4 separate regions of the Homo sapiens genome follow, and all the other regions are linked to region 2. The links come from fine-mapping of genetic effects on gene expression. A gene starts in region 2. Each other region holds a variant in brackets. All regions are shown on one strand. Distances are between the middles of the regions.

Region 1 (5,466 bases), 240 kb after region 2:
GAGGGGAGAAGACTGCTTGAGCCAGGAGTTTAAGGATGCAGTGAGCTATGATGGCACTGGTGAACAGCCACTACATTCCACCCGGGGCAACATAGCAAGACCCTATCTCCAAAAATGCAGCCCCCGAAAAAACAAAAAACACCTAAAAATTAAATACTGTAATACCAGCATTTTGGGAGGCCAAGGTGGGAAGATTGCCCAAGGCCAGGAGCTTGAGACAGTCTGGGCAACACAGCAAGATCCCATCTCTCTATCTCTCTCTCTATATATATATATAAATATAGATATAGATATATATAGATACATAAATAATGAGAGTATCACACACATTAAGTAAGACCAGTGGAAGCTCCAGTGCATCAGAGCACATATGTGTGTGTGTGTGTGTGTGTGTGTGTGTGTATACGTATGTGTATTAAATAAATAAAAATAAAATTTTGTTTTGTTTTTTGAGACGGAATCTTGCTCTATCACCCAGGCTGGAGTGTAGTGGCGCCATCTCGGCTCACTGCAACCTCTGCTTCCCGGGTTCAAGCGATTCTCCTATCTCAGCTTCCTGAGTAGCTGGGATTACAGGCGCGAGCCACCACACCCAGCTAACTTTTGTATTTTTAGTAGAGATGGGGTTTCATCATGCTGTAGTGAGCTGGTCTTGAACCCCTGGCCTCAAGAGATCCACCCGCCTTGGCCTCCCAAAGTGCTTGGATTACAGGTGTGAGCCACCGCGCCCAGCTAAAAATAAAAATTGTTTAAATATCTATCACTGAAGCAATTTCATCCAGCCAGTGTGTGTTATTTGGAATTTCTCTGGCTGTCTTTGTGTCCTCTAGCCAAAAAAAAAAAAAAAAAAAAAAAAAAAAAAATCATCTCATTCAATAAGCCCATTTATTAAATTCCATCAATATGTCATCTCCTCTTCTAGGTACTATGTCACCCAGCCTGGGTGACAGCATGAGACTCCATCTCAAACAAAAAAGTTTAAGTAAGCTCCCAGCTGAGACCTAAAGTATGAGAAGGGACCAGTGGGGAAAGAATTGCAGGGAAGAGCATCCAGGCAAAGGGAACAGCTTATGCAAACACACAGATTCCAGGGGAAAAGAACTAGGGGACAGTGAAATTGGAGGAGGTGAGGCAGCACCAGGTCATGGTGAACCTCAGAGCTATTTGGGGGGTGTCGATTTTGGTGCAAATGCAATAGGAAGCCCTTGGGGAAAGGGGCGGTTTAAGAAGGAGAATGAGATGGGGCCTGATTTACATTTTCTGCAAGTTATTCTGGCTGTTGGGGGTAGAGAGGAGGCAGGGAGGCGGGAAGGAGGCTGTGCTGGCCTCCAGGGCCAAGCTGGTGATGGCTTGACACAGGGGTGGCAACGAGAACAGAGGGAAGTGGGGTAGGGATTTATTTTGGAGGTAGAATTGAAGAGTCTTGGTGGTGGCCCGGGTGTGGGTGGTGAGGGTGAGATGATCCAAAGATGCCTCCCTGTTTTCTGGCCGGAGCCACCAGGTAGATGATGATGGTGCCATTTCCCGAGACGGGGAAGTCACAGGAGGGGCAGGCTGGGGAAGGAACCAAGAGTTGACTTTTGGACGCATTATGTTCAAGCTGTTATTTGTCCTGCCTGGCTAATGACTGACAGAGCTCTGTGGGCCTCATTGAGATAATGCTTATAAAGGTTTCATGCCAAAGCTACTGAAAAGCAAGTGTGAAATTTGTTTTTATTATTATTTAGTATTGCCTGATCTCCTACCCAAGCCCACCATAAAGGTCTGATTATGAAATCCACAAGCCAGAGGTCCCCACCACCTTCTTGTCTTTTGCTGCCTCCCTGCCACCCATCCCACAGCAACCTTAACAAAGCTCTGATGGTGGGATTCCAGGCATCGTCAACCAATGGCAAGGGAGGGGGCGCTGAGTTACCCCATATTGGCGCCTGGCAGCCTCTGGGGGCTGTGGGGTGGGCAGGGCTGGCCTCCTCTGGTGACTGGGGAGGGAGCTGGCAGAAGGCCGGGGAAGGGGGACAATGGGCCTTTGTCTTTGCCGAGGTTTCTCCATCCAAGATGCTCTAGCTCCTAGAAAAACATGACCTCATTCGTCCTCCAGGCTCCAGGACCCAGGGCAGAGACAGGCTTGGAGTTGGATGCACCCACCGCATTTCACAGACTGGAAAACCAAGTCACACAAGGAAAGAAGACAAGAGGACACCAAGGCTCCAGCCCTAAGACCCAGCCAGAAGTCATGCCCTCCCGGGTTGCTGAGCCCAGGGAGGGGACTCACAAGAGGGTCTTCTAGGCAGCAAAGGTCTAGCTAGCCCGCAAGCTCCTGGGACAGGCAGGTTGCACTTGGATCTGCTACTCACAGCTGTGTGGCTCTAAGCAGATTACTCACCTACTCTGCGCCCTGGTTTCTGCATCTGATGCAAGACTGGCAGCCTCTTTCTTGCAAGGTTAGAGTGCCCCTGGAGATCGCTGCTAAGAATTCAGAAAGGCCTGCTTCCCGCCATGGCATCTGCGCCCACTGCTCTGCCTAAGAGGTGATCTTCCAGGGAAGAAAGTGGGGATTAAGGCCCATCCCACGCAAGCCTCCAGGGTCCACAAATGTCCCTCTCTTGCCAGGGGCTCTGCAGTGACAAGGCCTGGCAGGAGTCTGGCATATCTTTCTGGTAGCTTCCTAAGTGACGTTCTCCCACACTGGCCCTGCTGGGCTTTCACCCCCGGCCCACAATAGCCCTCACTTCCTATGCCAATCCCCCCCTCTCCAGAGGGTCTTCTCCAACCTGGTCTCCATCTCCACAACCATCTGGGGACACCCCTGCACCTGAAACCTCAGCAATTCAAGTTGCAAGATGCCAGCTGGAGGGACTCCCGGCCATTCTCTCAGTCTCATGTCTAAAATAGGATAGTGGGGCTGGGCATGGTGGCTCACGGCTGTAATCCCAACGCTTTCGGAGGCTGAGGTAGAAGGATGGCTAGAGGCCAGGAGTTCGAGATCAGCCTGGGCAACATAGCCAGACCCCATTTCTAAAAACAAAAAAATTAAACAATTAGCC[G/A]GGCATGGTGGTGTATGGTCCCAGCTACTCGGTAGGCTGAGGCAGGAGGATTACTTGAGTCCAGGAGTTCAAGGTTGCAGTGAGCTATATTTGCACCACTGTACTCCAGCTTGGGTGACAGAGCAAAACCCTGTCTCTAAAAATAAGTAAAATGGGGCCAGGCGCGGTGGCTGACACCTGTAATCCTAGCAATTTGGGAGGCCAAGGCCGGTAGATCACCTGAGGTCAGAAGTTCGAGACCAGCCTTCCCAACATGGTGAAACCCTGTCTCTACTAAAAATACAAAAATCAGCCAGGCGTGGTGGCATGTGCCTATAATTCCAGCTACTAGGGAGGCTGATGCAGGAGAATCACTTGAACCCGGGAGGTAGAGGTTGCAGTGAGCCGAGATTGCACCATTGCACTCCAGCCTGGGCGACAGAGCAAGACTCCATCTCAAACATAAATAAATAAACAAATAAATAAATAAGTAAAATGGGATAATGGAACTTCTTGGGGACGTGGGAGCATTCGGTGAGAGGAGACTCCAGGGACCTGCACAGGGCTGGACACAGAGTAGATGCTTATGAAATGACAGGCTTATTAATACCAATTTTTCATCCCTTTCAAAGGTCATTCAGAACAACCTCCCAAGTCACTTACAGAAAGTAAAACCAGAGAGGGTTAGTTGTCAGTCGTCGTCACACAGCCTGTCAGTGTCAGGGCTCGGTGCAGACCCGGCCTCTGCATGCTGCCTTGGGGGTTCTCAGGCCGGGCCATGATCCTCAGCCCAGGGACCAGGTGAGGGAGGAGGGTGAGTGAGGCTGGAGATGGCCCAGGCTCTGGACTTTCCCTTGGCCCCATCTTCCACCGAGGCTGCATTCCCAGTGAGATAAACAAGGGATCAGCGGGAACAAAATGGATGAAGTAACGGGGAAGATATGAGTGGCTGTGCACAGCCCCCAGCCCACCCCACCTGCCTGCCCACCAACAGGGACTGCTTCAGGAGAGGCATGGCCGGCCCCTGAGTCTCAGCCCGTGCCAGGCACTAAGGGTGCTCAGCACTGGCCAAGCCCTTCCTGATCCCCGGGCTCAGGTGGCAAACCTCCTGTGGTGCCCTTGGACCCTCTCTGGGCCCTGTCCCTATGCTCCACCCTCCCTGGGCTGGGATTATTTCAAATCCCCTCCACCAGAGCCTTGGAGGAGACAATTGCATGCTCCCAAATGCAAATTCAGAGCCCCAGGGCTGTCTGGAGTGGACATATGATTTCCCACCCTGGCTCAACTGGTCTGGGGTTCAGCCTGTGTCTCTGGGGCACCTGCAGTGCCTTGCTGCCTGAGGCCAGCTCCCTACTGTGGTGGAGAGGCTGTGTCTGCCCAAGGCTTCCCCAACCCCAGTGCCAGCTCCCTGCCCCTGCAAATTTCTGCCCATCCTGACCTCTCCAAGGAGCCCTGGAACTCAGGGGACCATCTCCAGGGCCGGATGGGAGGCTGGCACTGCTGCCAAAGCCTGGACGCCCACCCAGCTGGACACTAACCTGGGTACCTTCCCTTGCTGAGACATAGATAAAGAGCAAGGGTGTTGGCCAGACAGGGCTCCACCCGCCGGCTGTGAGCAGCCAGGACCTGCAGCCTTGGGCCAGGGACCCCAGAGGCTCAACATCTGCCCCTACTTGCCTCAGAAGGAGGCAAGAAACGAGCCCTCTCCCTGCCAGGAAACATCACTGGAGTGCCCACCAATACCCTGAGCTGGGAGCCTGGCACAGAGGGGGTGTGCGGTGGGCACCCTAGGGCCCGCCTGGCTCACTTCGGCCTCAGTTGCCCTCAGCAAACAGTCCCCAAACTGCACCAGGCCCTGACTAGGCTAAGAGGGGGCTGTCTCTCTTCCCTCCCAGGTTTTTTGCAACCAACAGAGCTGGGATGGTGGAGCCCCAGGCCCTGGAATCTGCATTTTGGGACTCCTCGGGTGATATGAAGGCAGGTGGTCTCTAAGCACAACTGGAGAGACTCCACTGTGGTCCCTTCCCCATTTCCCCGTCCCCTCCCCGGCTTCAGAGGGCCCTGTCCCTACCTGCAGAGGAGGCTCCTTCATCCCAGCTTCCCGGGTACTCCGGTCCCCACTTTGCCGGCTGACATTCTGCCCCCCACGCCCCAGGCATCCTGTTATGACCATGGAGAACCACATAGGTTTCCCCAGCACACAACCACCTTCCCTCTTCAATAGCTGCTTCCTCTGTCGGAAATGCTTGTTCCGTGGTCTTTCCACCCAAAATATTCCCACTCAGCCTCGCAGGCCAGCTCCTATGTCACCTCCAAGAAGCCTTCCTTGACCTCCACCTGGTCCGTGCAGTCCCTCCGTTCTAACATCTCTTCTACTAGTGCTCATCACACCGGAATGAAATCGCCTTTCCTCTGGCTAGGAGCTTGTCAAGAACTGAGACCG
Region 2 (5,466 bases):
TCTAAGTGTTAGTTTTATATAAGGGCATTTGGGTTCAGGATTGGTGCATTTCCAGTTGTATGAAGAATACTTTTATTATTATCTTAGGCACAATTATGACCTTATTATTATCTTTATTTGAAGATTATGTATAATTTCAGAAGATGTGTATGGGTTAAAGTTGACAAGGGGTGAACTTGTGATGGTTAATATTGACTGTCAACTCTATTGGACTGAAGGATGCAAAGTATTGTTCCTGGGTGTGTATGTGAGGGTGTTGCCAAAGGAGATTAACATTTGAGTCAGGGGGCTGGGAAAGGCAGACCCGCCCTTAAACTAGGTGGGCACAATCTAATCAGCTGCCAGTGTGGCAAAAATAAAAATGAGGCAGAGGAACATAAAGAGGTGAGACTGGCTTAGCCTCCGAGCCTACATCTTTCTCCCATGCTGGATGGTTCCTGCCCTAGAACATCGGACTCCAAGTTCTTCAGGTTTGGGACTCAGAATGGCTTCCTTGCTCCTCAGCTTGCAGACAGCCTATTGTGGAACCTTGTGATCCTGTGAGTTAATACCCCTTAAGAAACTCCCTTATATATATACATCTATCCTAACAGTTCTGCTCCTTTAGAGAACTGTGACTAATACGAAGGGTGACAATAGAGGAATTTATATGCTAGACTTTTATACTTTACCTCAATTTTCATTACCTTTTGAAGAAAAAATGTTTCACATAATAATCACATAACAATAATTTATTCAAATTTATTAAGGCAGGAGCTGGGCCTAAAGAGGGTGCTGAGAGGCAGGAGCTGGGCCTGGAGAGGTCAACTGAAGGAAATTTTTGGCCTAAGGAGGCTGCCAGGAAGCAGGAGCTGGGCAAAAACAGGTTGTTGTTAGGCAGGATTTGGGCTCATAGAGGCAGCCAGGAGGCAGGAACTGGATCTTTATAAAAGGGGCAACGTAAGGCAGGAGCAGGGCCTGCAGAGTCTACCAGGAAGCAGGACCAGGGCACAAGAGGCTGACATGAGGCAGAAAGTTGCCCTTGGGAGGCCACTGTGAGGCAGGACTCTTGAAAGGACGCAAAGCTGGGCCTGTAGTGGCTGCTAAAAGGCAGGAACGTGGTCTGGAAGGCCCTGGTGAGGAAAGAGTTGGGCCAAAAGAGGCCACTAGGAGGCAGGAGCTGGGCCTCAGGAGGCTGCCATAAAACAGGAGCTGGGACTCGGAAGGCAGACATGAAGCAAAAGCTGGCCTTTGGAAGGCTGATGAAAGGGAGAAGCCGGGCCTGGTGAGGTTGACTTGAGAAAGTTTGGGGCCTGGAGAGATCCATGGGAGGCAGGAGCCAAACTTGTAGACGCTACTGGAAGGCAGGAGGTGGGCCTGGTGAGGTAAACATGAGGAAGTTCTAGGCCTGGAGAGACAAGTCGGAGAAAGGAGCTGGGGGTAAAGAGGCTGTTGTAAGGCTTGAGATAGGCCTGCAGAGGCGGCCTGGAGGCAGGAGCTGGGCCTGGAGATGCCAAATTGAGGAAGTTTTAGGCCTGCAGAGGCCGTGAAGAGAAAGGAGCTAAGCCTGGAGAGACCGATGAAAGGCAGAAGCTGGGGCTAGAGAGGCCATTGGCAGGCAAAAGCTGGGGCTAGAGAGGCCATTGGCAGGCAAAAGCTCGGCCTCTGGAGGCCGCAAGGAGACAGGAGCCGGGCCTGGTGAGGTTGACTTAAGGATGTTTTGGTCCTGGAGAGGCCGGGCCTAAAGAGGCTGTTGAAAGGATGATGCCAGGCCTGTAGAGGCCAACAGAAGGCAGGAGCTGGGCCTGAGAAGCCCAAATTAAGAAAGTTTTAGGCCTGTAAGTTCCCTAAAGAGGCAGGAGCTAGGCATGCATGGAGAGGCTGCTGTGAGGCAGAAGCTGGGCCACTAGAGGTTGCCAAGAGGCAGGAGAATGGCTTGAAGATGTAGCAGTGAAAATGAGCTGAGTCTAAAGAGGTCATTGTTAGGCAGAAGCTGAGATCCTAGAGGACACTCAGAGGTACAAGTTGGGCCTGGAGAGGTCGACTGGAAAAAATTATTGACTTAAAAAGAGCACCAAGGCAGTAGCTGGGCCTGGAGTGGACACAGGAAGGCAGAAGGTGGGACCTGGGAGGCCGCCATTAAACAGGAGCTGAGTTTATGAGGCAAAAGCTGGGCCTTAAAAGGCTGACCAGATGCAGAAGCTAGGCCTGGTGACGATGACGTGAGAAAGTTCTGGGCCTGAAGGGACAATGCAAACGCAAGAGCTGGGCCTAAATAAGCCATTCGAAAAATGGAGTTCGGCCTCAAGAAACTGCAGAAAAGCAAAAGCTGGGCTTGGAGATGCTGCAACGAGGCAGGCACAAAAATGGTCTAGCAACTGGAAACAGCTCTGGGCCTGGAGAGGATGCCGGGAGGCGAGAGCCGGGTCTGGAGAGAGGCCGCCCACAGGCAGGAGCTGGGCCTGAGGCGGCCAAGCCGAGGCACGAGCTGGGCCCGGAGGGGCCACTGTGGGGCAGAGGCCGTGCCCCCAGGGGCCTACGCCAGGCAGGAGCTGGGCCTGGCGAGGCCGACTTCGGGCCGCCTCGGGTGGGCCCGCACAGGCCATCAGCGGGAGGCAGGAGCTGGGCCCAGAGGGGCCGACGTTGAGGAAGGGAGCCTTGGGCTGGGAGACGCCGTCGGGCTGGGCGGGAGCCGGGCCTGGAGAGGCCGCCGCGAGGCACGAGCTGGGCCTGGAGGGGCCCGCGTGAGGCAGGAGCCGGGCTCGTGGAGGCTGCCGGGAAGCCGGCACGAGCATGGCCGGGGAAGGCCGCCACGAGGCAGGAGGCAGGCCTGGAGAGCTGGACCGGAGGAGGCTTCGGGTCTACGGAGGCCGCTGGGAGCTGGGCAGGAGCCGAGTCACAGGAGGATGTTCAGAGGCAGGAGCTGGGCCCGCGGGCGCAGCCACGAGCAAGGAGCTGGGCCCGGAGAGGAGGCCGGGAGGCGGCCACTGGGCTGGCAGAGGCCGACTTGAGGAAGTCCTGGGCCTGGAGAGGCTGCCAGAAGGGCAAAGGTGGGCCTCAGGAGGCCGCGGCGAGGCACGAGCCGGGCCTAAAGAGGCCATTGGGACGCAGGAGTCAGGCCCGCGGAGGCCACCGAAAGGCAGGAGTGTGGCCTGGTGCAGGCCGTGGTGAGGCACGAGATGAGCCTAAAGATGCCATCGGGAGGCAGGAGCCGGGATTGTCGGGGCTGCCGCGAGGCAGGCGGAAACGTGGCCCAGGGAGGCCAACGTGAGGCAAGAGCTGGGCCTGGAGAGGCCGCTGTCAGGCAGGAGCTGGGCCTCTCCATGCCACCGGGGAGCCAAAGGCAGGGCCTGAAAGGCCTGACTTAGAGGATCCTGGGGTTTACAAAGGCTGCCAGGAGCTGGGCAGGAGCTGGGCCGAACGTGGCTTTTGCGAGGTAGGAGCTGGGCCGGCAGGCACAGCTGAGAGGGAGAGTTGGGCCTGGAGAGGCCGGCTGGAAACAGTACTGGGCCTGGAGAGGATGGTGAGAGGCAAGAGCTTGGCCCATGGAGGCTGCCAACAGGCAGGGCAGGAGCTTCGGCTGATGTGGCCACGCTGAGGCAACAGCTGGGACTGGGGGGTTCCACTTTTAGAAGGCAGAGGCCGTGCTTCTAGGGGCCTATGACAGGCAGGAGCTAGGCCCGGCGAGGCCGACTTCAGGATACTTTGGGTCTGCACAGGCCATCAGCGGAGGGCAGGAATTGGGCCCTGGATGGGCCAACTTGAGAAAGCCTTGGGCCGGTCGGGGTGGGCGGGAGCTGGGCCTTGAGAGACCACCGTCAGGCGTGAGCTGGGCCTAGAGACCCCAGTGTGAGGCAGGCGCCGGGCTTTTTGAGGCCGCCGAGAGGCTGGCAGGAATACAGCCGGGGAAGGCCGCCGTGAGGCAAGAGCTGGGCCTGGGAAGGCCGCTGCGAGGCCACAGGTGGGCCTGAAGAGCTGTGCTGGAGGAGGTTTCGGGCCTACAAAGGCCGCCAGGAGCTGGGCACGAACCGAGTCAAAAGCGGCTGTCTGCAGGCAGGGGCTGGGCCTGGAGGTACAGCCGCGAGAGTGTGCTGGGCCTGGAGAGTAGGCCGGGAGACAGCCACCAGGACAGGGGAGGCTTGCCAATTTGGGCCTGGAGAGGCCGCCACGAAGGAAAAGCTGGGCCTTTGAAAGAGGCCATTGTGAGGGACGAGCCGGGCCTAAAGAGGCCGTCAGGACGCAGGAGCCGGACCTGCGGAAGCCGCCGAAAGGCAGGAGCCTGGCCTGGGGGAGGCTGCAGTGAGGCATGAGATGAGCCTAAAGAGGCCATCAGGAGGCAGGAGCTGGGTCTTTCGGGGCTGCCGCGAGGCAGGGGGAAATGTGTCCCGGGGAGGCCGACGCGAGACAAGAGCTGGGCCCGGAGAGGCCGCTGTCAGGCAGGAGCTGGGCCTCTCCAGGCCGCCAGGGAGCTGAAGGCAGGGCCTGGAAGGCCTGACTTAGAGGAGCCTGGGGCCTACAAATGCTGCCATGAGCTGGGCAGGAGTTGGGCCGAACGTGCCTGTTGCGAGGCAGGAGCTGGGCCGGCAGCCACAGCCGGGAGGGAGAGCTGGGCCTGGAGAGGCCGGCTGGAAACAGTTCTGGACCTGGAGAGGATGGCGAGAGGCAAGAGCTGGGCCTGTGGAGGCTGCCAACAGGCAAGGCAGGAGCTTGGCCTGAGGTGGCCATGCTGAAGCAAGAGCTGGGTCTGGGGGGGTCCACTGTGAGGAGGCAGAGGCCATGCCTCTAGGCGCCTACGACAGGCAGGAGCTGGGCCTGGCGAGGCCGACTTCAGGACGCTTTGGGCCCACACGGGCCATCGGCGGGAGGCAGGAACTTGGCCTGGAAGGGCCATCTTGAGAACGCCTTGAGCCGCGAGACGCTGTTGGGGTGGGCGGGAGCTGGGCCTGGAGACGCCACTGTGACGCCTGAGCTGGGCCTAGAGAGGCCAGTGTGAGGCGGGAGCTGGGCTTGTTGAGGCTACCGCGAGGCCGGCTAGAAAATGGCCGGGGAAGGCCGCTGTGAGGCAAAAGCTGGGCCTGGGAAGGCCGCTGTGAGGGGAGACTGGGTATGGAGTGCTGGACTGGAAGAGATTTCAGGCCTACAAAGGCTGCCAGGAGCTGGGTAGGAGCCGAGTCAAAAGAGGCTCTTTGGAGGCAGGAGCTGGGCCTGTAGACACAGCTGCGAGAGAGGACTGGGACTGGAGAAGAGGCCGGGAGGCAGCAACTGCGGTGGGGGAGGCCGACTTGAGGAATTTCTCGGCCTGGAGAGGCCACCAAAAGGGAAAAGCTGGGCCTAAGGTGGCCGTTGTGAGAAATGAGCTGGGCCTAAAGAGGCCATCAGGATGATCAGGACGCAGAGCTCGGCCTCTGCTGCAGAGGCTGCTGAAACGCAGCAGCTTGGTTTGGCGAGGCCACGGTGAAGCATGAGATGAGCCTAAAGAGGTCACTG
Region 3 (5,466 bases), 120 kb after region 2:
GCCTCCCTAGTAGCTGGGATTACAGGCACCCGCCACCACGCCCAGCTAATTTTTTGTATTTTTAGTAGAGACGGGATTTCACTATGTTGGCCAGGTGATCCACCCGCATTGGCTTCCCAAAGTGCTAGGATTACAAGCGTGAGCCACTGTGCCCAGCTCAGTATCAGATTTTTATAGGACTGGCTAGAAAAATAACAATGAAACAAGCAAAAGGTGTTATGTTGTGCTTAACTGCTTCCTTAGAAAGAAGAGCTTATCAGAATGACTATTAAGAAGTCTTTTAGAAACTGAATTGATTGCCATGAATGGAGTATTAAGGGACTAATACAAATTAAAAAAATAAAAATAACTGAATTGAGAAACCCAAAAAATGAGGGGTGTTTTGTTTTGTTTTGTTTTTTGTTTTTTTTTGAGATGGAGTCTTGCTCTGTTGCCCAGGCTGGAGTGCAGTGGCATGATCTCAGCTCACTGCAACCCCACCTTTTGGGTTCAAGTGATTCTTCTCCCTCAGCCTCCCGAGTAGCTGGGACTACAGGCGAGCGCCACCATGCCCAGCTAATTTTTGTATTTTTAGTAGAGACAGGGTTTCACCATATTGGCCAGGCTGGTCTCGAAATCCTGACCTCGTGATCCACCCACCTCAGCCTCCCAAAGTGCTGGGATTACAGGTGTGAGCAACCTCGCCCAGCCCCAAGTTTATTAAAAAGCACTACTGCAATACCCAACAAATTAAAGGGTAGGTACTTTGAGGAAGTAGAGCCTGCCCCCTTTAAAAGCAGGACAAGCTACACTTTCAGAATAGGGAAAAAATGTATCTGAGGGATTTATTAACACTTAGCAAGGGCAGGATTTAAATAGTTTGAGCAGCAAAAGAGTTTTTCCAGAAGTTTTATTTACTTTTATTTAATTGCAGTCTAAACATGTGTCTTACAGTGAGCGTTTTCATATAAATAATTTACAGAAAAAAGTTATTTACAAAGCCACAGATCTCATTCAGTTAGGTAATATGGTTTTCTAGTTATTATGGGAAAGGTTAACACTTGATTGGGTCTATACAGTGCCTTAAAATTGCCCTCACCACATGAAGCTCTGTCCAGATGACAAAGAGAATGTATACCTCTTCATAAGTGACTATATATACTCCTGAATCCATAATCACTCTCAGACCTGTGTGAAGCTTGGTTAAGGTGAGATTCTTAAATTCAAGTTAGGCCAGGTATTGTGGCTCAATCCTGTAATCCCGGCACATTGGGAGGCCAAGGTGGGCGGATCATGTGAGGCTAGGAGTTCATGACCAGCCTGGCTAACAGAGTAACACCCCATCTCTACTAAACATACAAAAAATTAGCTCGGCATGGTGGTGCACACCTGTAATCTCAGCTATGCGGGAGGCTGGGGCATAAAAATTGCTTGAACCTGGGAGGCAGAGGTTGGGGTGAGCCGAAATCACGCCACTGCACTACAGCCTGGGCAACAGAGCAAGACTCTATCTTAAAAAAAAAAAAAAAAAAAAAAAAATCAGGCCAGGCATGGTGGCTCACTTCTGTAACCCCAAGATTTTGGGAGGCCAAGGCGGGCAGACCACTTGAGGTCAGGAGTTCAAGACTAGCTTGGCCAACATAGTGAAATCCTGTGTCTACAAAAAAAAAAAAAAGTAAAAATTATCTGGGCATGGTGGCACATGCATGTAATCCCAGCTACTCGAGAGGCTGAGGGAGGACGATCACTGGAACCTGGAAGGTAAAGGCTGCAATGAGCAGAGATCACACCACTGCACTCCAGCCTGGCCAACAGAGCAAGACTCCTATCTCAAAAAGAAATAATAATAATTCAAGTTATGTTGTACAGATTAGGTTTTAAAAATTAAGCTTTATTAATTTGGCTCAGCAATTTAAATTCTTGCTATGATGATTTGTAAGAACAGAAAAGTAGCTGATGGCAACTATATTTTCAACATAAAAGGATTTTGTGTTAATGACATAGCTGCCCGTCTCATTTGCAATGGAAATATCTTGTTTTAAAGAATGTATAGAAGTACTGTAAGAGTATACATGTTTTAACATTAAGTGGCTAGTAAGACTAGCAAGAAAGAAAAAAGAGCAAAATAAACAAGCTTCAGAAAAATATTAGCAAACAACATTTGCTGAATAGCACTGGGCGCGGTGGCTCACACCTATAATCCCAGCTCTTTGGGAGGCCAAGTTGGGAAGATCACCTGAGGTCAGGAATTCAAGACCAGCCTGGGCAACATAGGGAAACCCTGTCTCTACAAAAAATAAAAAACTCAGCCAGACATGGTGGTGTGTGCCACTAGTCCCAGCTACTCAGGAGACTAAGGCAGGAGGATCACTTGAGTCTGGGAGGTCAAGTCTGCAGTGAGCAGCAACTGCGCTATTGTGCTCCAGTCCAGGAGATAGAGCAACACACTGCTTCAAAAAAAGAAAGAAAAGGAAAGGAAAGGAAAGAAAGAGAAGTGTGTTGCATAGTAAAGCATTATACTGCCATACTGCAGTGGGTATGAAAATTACGTAGGTGCTGAAATTTAAATTCTAAAAACAAAAAACATCTTAGTGTAGACAAGGTGTTTCTTGATAAAGATAAAATGGCTTAAAAATTTTAATGCAGTTCGGAAAAGATTTAATTTTCTAGACTTGACCCATATGCTGAAAAGGCTGCTCACCACCGGCATATACAGGGCTTGGAGAAAACAGAAATGATGTGGGAAAGATGTGGGCAAGAGCAGATCACTCTCCTGGATCTCAGAAATTTTAGAAAGAATAATACTGTGGGATGCAGTAGGAACAATTATCCATTTATGGCAAGGCTGACTGGGCAGTTTTTAAACAGGTAAGAATGGATTTTCATATTGCATAGGCCCTTAGGATACCATCTAGAAAGTTTAGTTGGTGGTAATAACATTAATTTAAAGGTTTTGCGCAGTTTTGAAGAACTGAGTACAAAGACTTTTTTTTTTT[C/T]CCCCCCAGATGGAGTCTCGCTCTGTCATCCAGGCTGGAGTGCAGTGGTGCAATCTCCGCTCACTGCAAGCTCCGCCTCCCAGGTTCACGCCATTCTCCTGCCTCAGCCTCCCAAGTAGCTGGGACTACAGGCGCCTGCCACCACGCCCAGCTAATTTTTTGTATTTTTAGTAGAGACAAGGTTTCACCGTGATAGCCAGGATGGTCTCTATCTCCTGACCTTGTGATCCGCCTGCCTCGGCCTCCCAAAATGTTGGGATTACAGGCGTGAGCCACCGCACCCGGCCACAAAGGCTATTTTATACTACCACATTCTTCACAACTTCAGAGGAACTGCCCCAAGAAATTTATATGATTAGTGATCTGAAGCTAGTTATGTTAGTTCAGGTGTAAAGAGTGTTTATTTATTTATTTGAAAGGACATTAACTTGCAGACAAAGGCCAAAAGGGCTTCTCTAGGGACATTCAGTTTAAAAAACATCTCTTTCATATATGGTATGTGCAGACTTCACACTAAAGATACCTGAGATACATGCATAGGACTTGGCCACCTAACCATGAAACACATAGTGTAGAAATGGAAAATAGGTGGCTTAGTGGCTCTTAAAACAGGAGGAATCTGAGGCCATATGCAGGTCTCTGATATAAACTAGTGATGCCTTACAAATAGGCATTGTGATATTTGTACCAGTTAATTACCTCTTTACTTTAGTATACTCATTTAGAAGTCTACTAAATTATTACAGAGTAAGAACACATCACACTTCTGAGCAAAAGAAAAATACCAAATCTGAGTTGAGCAATTTTCTAAAACATATTATACAGCATACATGCTATATGTACTACAGTATACATACACTAACTTAATATAGCTATCCCGTGAACATTTCATGTGGGCTCAAGAAAAAAATAAATACAAAACCTCAGTTTTTAGTTCTGATAAAAATGAAAGATGGTGTCATATGAACTCTGAATTGTTCCATATTAAGGATATCTATCATGTTTCCTAACTTAAAAAAAAAACAATAACAGCTCACTTGTTTTGACTCTAAATGTTTTACTCTAGAGAGAAAAAATACCTAGAGAAAGACAGCTACTTACTTACACAGTCTAATTACATTTCTGAAGGGCGAGAAAGCAAGCTTTTCTCCTTTACAAACTGAATTCAATATCTAAAAATTATTTTGACACAAGTCCACTGCTTATTAGCCTAGTGATTGCTGACCCCAGCTAGAATATAGCTAAACAGTTAAACACCCTGCTGCTTTTCTAATTTCCTTTTTCTTTCTAAGACTTCCTTACTGCATAGAAGGAACTTTCAGAGCTAATTCTGAGTTTAATGGTTATAGAATGTTACAACAGAATTAATCCCTATTTACAAAATGAATTCCTTTACAGGCAGTCTTATTAATTATTGCCACTGAAATTATGGGTAAAAGAAACAGGTGTGGAAATCACAAGTTCTGGTTGACATTGGCAAAATCTAGCTGTGTAACCTTGGACAAGTCACTTATCCTCTTTGGCTCTCAACTTCCTCATCTATAAAATAAAGGGACTGAAACTCCATAGTTGCTAAAGTCCCTTTCATTGTCTAAATTCTATCTGTCCTTTCTCTAACTGAATGAAAAAATTCAAAATCAAAATACAAAAAACAAAACAGAATTCAACAACAACAACCCTTAAAATTACTGCCACTGGCCTAACAATGGTTGCACAGAGTTAAAGGTCTACTATCGCAGTTTATACTATTTACAAGGTCACAAGTCAAAAAGGCCTGTTACTAAAGCACATAATTCAAGTGGCTTCAGGTCAGAATTTCCACACAAAGATGATCCAAACACCACTGAGTTGCAGTGGAAAAGTACTAGCCTAAGAGTTGGGTTTTAGCTTGATTCAGAGGCTTTTCTTAGGTAAGTAATTTAACATCTCTTGGTCTGGATTTTTCTCAGGCATAAAATGACAAGGTTGCACTATATTATCTCTAAGACCTTTCCTCAAACCAAAACTCTATGTTTCTACGTGGTTATTCTCAACCTACCCTTTTGTAATGCATTCCTTCCAAAAACAGCTTGGTCTGTTTATAGATTTCTTGGCCTGTCTTGTGGAAGGTCTTGAGAAATTCTATGAACTCCTTAGACACTCTATCCGTTTCAATGCTGGTTTGCCGGTTTATGGAAGGACTGGGAGCTTTTGCTTCCTGAATTTCTGCTGGGAAAATTAAACATAGTAAGTTTCATGACATAAAAGATCCATGCATGGAATTACTTTAAGTATCTTACCTAAGGTTATTTAAATTATGTTTCATCAAAGTTAAACTTGAATTTAAATAATTTTATGTTTGAATGGTTGGACAACTTTCCTTAAAGTAAACTAAATCTGTTTTACAAGTAGGAAGTATGAGTAGACAAAACTACATTATCTAAAAGATATTCCTACTGAAATAAAAGTTGTTCTATTAGTATTTTCTTTGCCAAAATCTATCACACTTTGA
Region 4 (5,466 bases), 48 kb after region 2:
TGAGCCAGGGAGAATTGCTCGAACCTGGGAGAAAGAGGTTGCAGTGAGCTGAGATGATGCCAGTGCACTCCAGTGTGGGTGACAGAGCAAGACTCCATCTCAAAAACAAACAAACAAACAAACAAAAAAACAGAAGGTGCCATTTGCTATGGGGAGACTAGGGATATGATCTTGCTGCAATCCTTCCATTTTAGTAAATCTAAAGAGTGTAATTCCATTCTGTTTTGTCCCCACTCCACTCCAGAGCCAAAACTAGTAAGAAAATCAATTCTATTTCTATTTCTTTCAAAACACATCTAACAATAAGAGATGATATGCACAGCTCCATACTATAAAAGAAAAACTTATGTCCTGGGTATCATAGACATTTGATGAATGTTTGTTCAGGTGACTGGTGTAGACTTCAATAATAACCCGTTCAATGCATTATGCCAGATAAAATCTTGCATCTCAAAAGTAGGACAAACATTGTTCTTTTAGTTCTGTCTACCCATAAATGCAATATTTACATGTATTTATAATGGGTTAATAAAAAGAAAATGAGTTTACTGTTCTAGAGAGTATTAGAATTTTGAAAATATGAATTCTCCTGTCCTAGCACATAATTGTTAGAGGCATATTATTTAATATGGAAGGCATCATTAAAAAATGTTAAGCATTAGGTAATTATTGCACATAATCTTTTAATCTGACTTAAGACTGAATGCCTACCTCCTGAAGCTGGTTTGTCAAGCTGTAAATCTTCATGTGTTGAATTCATAAGTTCATGTCTGAAAGGTAAGAATAAATACTTAATATTCACTAGGCAATATTCAGCAAAGTAATATCCACTAGTACATATTTCACATTTAATCACCAAGGGTGGTTTTGAAAAGACAAGGCAGGCTGGGCATGGTGGCTTATGCCTGAAATCCCAACACTTTGGAAGGCAGAGGCAGGCAGATCACGAGGTCAGCAGTTTGAGACAAGCCTGGCCAACATGGTGGCACCCCATCTGTACTAAAATCACAAAACTCAGCTGGGCGTGGTGGTAGGTGCCTGTAATCCCAGCTACTCAGGAGGCTGAGACAGGATAATTGCCCGAACCCAGGAGGTGGAAGTTGCAGTGAGTCGAAATCATGCCACTGCACTCCAGCCTGGGTAATAGAAAGAGACTCCATCTTGGAAAAAAAAAAAATTAAGAAAAGACAATCTGGATGATTGAGCACAACTAAATCTTCATTTGAGGTTTCTACAGAGTAACGAAACAAAATAATATTGTAAATTGTCTCATAAGCTGCTTCATGGAGCATGTGTTCTCACAAGTAAAGTGGTAACTCTGCAACCCACAGGTCTTTGAAGCATATTACAAAAATCTTAAATGGGATCCTTTAATATCACATTGCATTCAAGACTATCTTCCTCTACACAACTAGAAAAACAATCATATATTCCCACATATGCCACAAAAATCTCAGGCCTAAAAACAAGACACGGATACTATTTTCTTTAGCAAAAGTAGCAGAAAACTGTGAAAGAAAATGTCAGTTGCATGCTAGTCAGGTGTGGGCAGTGTTCATGTTTCAAAAGCTAACACTGGCACGACTGACTCAATGTTGGACCCAGATATATTAAAAAGTGGAAGATAAAAATACTTAAAATAGGCCGGGTGCAGTGGCTCACATCTGTAATCCCAGCACATTGGGAGGCTGAGGTAGGTGGATCACCTGAGGTCAGGAGTTTGAGACCTGACCAACATGGAGAAACCCTGTCTCTAGTAAAAATACAAAATTACCTGGGCTTGGTGGGACATGCCTGTAATCCCAGCTACTCAGGAGGCTGAGGCAGAATCACTTGAACCTGGGAGGCAGAGGTTGCAGTGAGCCGAGATCACACCATTGCACTTTAGCCTGGGCAACCAGAGAGAAACTCCATCAAAAAAAAAAAAAACCCCATAATATAAGTCAAACTTAAGTAAATATAACCGTAGTGGTAAATATTTGTCAACAATAAAAAAGATGTATTACTCACAAGAGAGATAAGAGTCAAATAAGAATCCAGGAGTCTTACTTTTTAATCACAAAACAAATCCTTTCCATTGCAAGTAATATCCTCTCAAAGCCAGGAATTCTGTAAGTGGATAGCCTTCCTAAAAAAATTTCTGGTGGGGCAAAGTGGCTCATGCCTGAATCCCAGCAATTTGGGAGGCCAAGGCGGGTGGATGATGAAGTCAGGATTACCAGACAAGCCTGGCTAACATAGTGAAACCCTGTCTTGGCCAGGCACGGTGGCTCACACCTGTAATCCCAGCACTTTGGGAGGCTGAGGCAGGTGGATCACGAGGTCAAGAGATCGAGACCATCCTGGCTAACACGGTGAAACCCCATGTCTACTAAAAGTACAAAAAATTAGCCGGGTGTGGTGGCGGGCGCCTATCGTCCCAGCTACTTGGGAGGCTGAGGCAGGAGAATGGCGTGAACCCGGGAAGCGGAGCTTGCAGTGAGCCGAGATCGTGCCACTGCACTCCAGCCTGGGCAACAGAGCGAGACTCCGTCTCAAAAAAAAGAAACCCCATCTCTACTAAAAATACAAAAAAATTAACCAGGCATGGTGACTTGCGCCTGTAGTCCCAGCTACTCAGGAGACTGAGGCAAGTGAATCACTTGAATCCAAGAGGCGGAGGTTGCAGTGAGCCGAGATTGCTCCACTGCACTCCAGTCTGGGCACAGAGCAAGACTGTGTCTCAAAAACAAAAACAAAAACAACAACAACAAAAATTCCTGGCCTAGCGTAGTGGTTCATGCCTGTAATCCCAGCACTCTGGGAGGCTGAAGCAGGAGGATCACCTGAGTTCAGCAGTTCCAGACCAGCCTGGCCAACATGGTGAAACCCCATCTCTATTAAAAATACAAAATTAGCCTGGTGTAGTGGCGGGCGCCTGTAATCCCAGGTACTCAGGAGACTGAGGCAAGAGAATCGCTTGAACCCAGGAGGCAGAGGCTGCAGTGAGCTGAGATCACAGCATTGTACTGCAGCCTAGATCATGCCATTGCACTCCAGCCTAGGCGACAAGAGTAAAAACTCTGTCACAAAAAAAAAAAAAAAAAAAAAATTCCTGTGGGGAAGGCCTTCTACATAAAGAT[C/T]TTCAGCTTGAGACTGGAAAAAAGGGGTGGACCTTTGGCTTTTACAGCTTGAGCTATAAAGACAAAAAGAAAAAAGCGTATCATTTAAACACAATATGTAGAAAAGAATAATTATTGAATCTGTATTGCTCTTTAATTTTTATAATTTGATCTTTACTTCTGTTACTGTAATTGAGTCCAAAGAAAAATATTATGAGTAAAATAAAAACACCACCAAAAATGCTAATGTTCTGTTCATCAAAGTCTGCAGTGAAATATCCCATTACAGATAAGTGCAGTGACTCACACCTGTAATCCCAGCACTTTGGGAGGCCAAGAAAGGTGAATCAACTGAGGTCAGGAGTTCGAGACCAGACTAGCAAACATGGTGAATCCACGTCTCTACTAAAAATAAAAACGTAGCCAGGCAAGGTGGCAGGCACCTGTAATCCCAGCTACTCAGGAGGCTGAGGCAGGAGAACTGCTTGAACCCAGGAGGCAGAGGCTGCAGTGAGCTGAGATCACAGCATTGTACTCCAGCCTAGGCAACAAGAGCAAAACTCAATCTCAAAAAAAAAACAAACAAAAAAAAAACAGTAAGAGAATTGTGGAGCTGATGGAGCTGAGTCCTACTCATTGTATTTACTTTCCTAAAATAAAACAACATTATAAAAAAACATATGACCAGGCGCAGTGGCTCATGCCTGTAATCCCAACACTTTGGGAGGCCAAGGTGGGAGGCTCACCTAAGGTCAGGAGTTTGAGACCAGCCTGGCCAACATGGTGAAACCCCAACTCTACTACAAATGCAAAAATTACGCAGACCTTTTGGCAGGTGCCTGTGATGCCAGCTACTTGGGAGGCTGAGCCAGGGAGAATTGCCTGAACCTGGGAGATGGATGTTGCAGTGAGCTGAGATCACGCCACTGCACTCCAGTGTGGGTGACAGAGCAAGACTCCATCTCAAAAAAAAAAAGAAAAGAAAACAGCTAGCAGGTGCCATTTGCTATGGGGAGACTAGGGATATGATCTTGCTGCAATCCTTCCATTTTAGTAAATCTTAACAGTGTGATTCCATTCTGTTTTGTCCCCATTTCACTCCAGAGGCAAAACAAGTAAGAAAACCAATTCTATTTCTATTTCTTTCGAAACACATCTAAACAATTAAGAGATGATATGCATGGCTCTATACTCTAAAAGGAAACATTCTTGTGTCCTGGGTATCATGGACATTTCATGAATGCTTGTTCAAGTGACTGGTGTAGACTTCAATAATAACCTGTTCAATGCATTATGCCAGATAAATCTTGCATCTCAAAAGTAGGCCAAATTTTGTTCTTTTAGTTCTGTCTACCCATAAATGCAACATTTACATGTATTTATAATGGGTTAAAAAAAGAAAATGAGTTCACTGTTTTAGAGAGTATTAGAATTTTAACAAATGAGGCCGGGCGGGGTAGCTCTGACCTGTAATCCCAGTACTTTGGGAGGCCGAGATGGGTGGATCATCTTAGGTTGGGAGTATGAGACTAGCCTGACAAACATGGAGAAACCCCAACTCTATTAAAAATATCCGGGTGTGGCAGCGCATGCCTGTAATCTCAGCTACTCAGTAAGCTGAGGCAGGAGAATTGCTTGAACCCAGGAGGCAGAGGTTGCATGAGCCTAGATTGTGCCACTGCACTCTAGCCTGGGCAACAAGAGCAAAACTCCGTCTCAAAAAGAAAAAAAAAAATTAAAAAAAAAAAAAGAATTTTGACAACATGAATTCTCCTGTCCTGGAACATAATTAATAGTTACAAGCATATTATTTCATGTGGAAGGTACCATTTTAAAAAAACAATGTCAAGCATTAAATAATTATTGCACATAATCTTTTTTTTTTTTTTTTTTGAGATGGAGTCTCACTCTGTCACCCAGGCTGGAGTGCAGTGGCGGGATCTCGGCTCACTGCAAGCTCCGCCTCCCAGGCTCATGCCATTCTCCTGCCTTAGCCTCCCGAGTAGCTGGGACTACAGGTGCCCACTACGATACCCGTCTAAGTTTTTGTACTTTTAGTAGAGATGGGGTTTCATCCTGTTAGTCAGGATTGTCTCGATCTCCCGACCTCATGATCCACCCACCTCGGCCTCCCAGAGTGCTGGGATCACAGGTGTGAGCCACCACGGCCAGCCTGCACATAATCTTCTAATCTGACTCAAGACTGAAGACCTACCTCCTGAAGCTGGTTTATCAAGCTGTAAATCTTCATGTCTTAAATCCATAAGTTCATGTCTGAAAGGTGAGACTACTTAATATTCACTAGGCAATATTCAGCGAAGTAACATCCACTAGTACATATTTAACATTGAATCACCAAGGATGG

Alleles and levels. Positions count from the first base shown, and alleles are read on the strand shown. Sizes are in standard deviations (SD) of each study's normalised expression. Not every link is listed here.
In carriers of allele C in region 3, the expression in naive CD4 T cells of the gene that starts at base 2,894 in region 2 tends to be higher than with T alone (large effect, 1.0 SD a copy in Schmiedel 2018).

Evidence for each region. PIP is the estimated chance that this variant, and not a neighbour inherited with it, causes the effect.
Region 1: its variant is the best candidate, but not a certain one, in a credible set for the expression of LINC02604 in prostate (GTEx, PIP 0.51).
Region 3: its variant is the best candidate, but not a certain one, in a credible set for the expression of LINC02604 in naive CD4 T cells (Schmiedel 2018, PIP 0.76).
Region 4: its variant is the best candidate, but not a certain one, in a credible set for the expression of LINC02604 in gastroesophageal junction (GTEx, PIP 0.76).

The regions. Positions count from the first base shown.
Region 1 is chr7:66,665,831-66,671,296 of GRCh38, reverse strand. LOC100996437 (a long non-coding RNA gene) reads right to left here. Exons shown (of 4, transcript NR_110037.1): 2 at 3,687-3,899; 3 at 2,384-2,533; 4 at 1,695-2,067. It also overlaps a transcript of RABGEF1 not described here. Among named protein-coding and RNA genes, the nearest start is that of KCTD7, 40 kb to the right of the region's middle. RefSeq lists enhancers at 3,721-4,460, 4,461-5,201. The variant G/A (reference allele first, on the strand shown) is at 3,045.
Region 2 is chr7:66,901,548-66,907,013 of GRCh38, reverse strand. LINC02604 (long intergenic non-protein coding RNA 2604) reads right to left here and starts at 2,894. Exons shown (of 1, transcript NR_136637.1): 1 at 717-2,894.
Region 3 is chr7:66,783,389-66,788,854 of GRCh38, reverse strand. It overlaps RABGEF1 (RAB guanine nucleotide exchange factor 1), which reads right to left. Exons shown (of 9, transcript NM_014504.3): 4 at 5,014-5,180. Among named protein-coding and RNA genes, the nearest start is that of RABGEF1, 45 kb to the right of the region's middle. The variant C/T (reference allele first, on the strand shown) is at 2,976.
Region 4 is chr7:66,853,381-66,858,846 of GRCh38, reverse strand. It overlaps the pseudogene GTF2IP23. Among named protein-coding and RNA genes, the nearest start is that of LINC02604, 48 kb to the left of the region's middle. The variant C/T (reference allele first, on the strand shown) is at 3,123.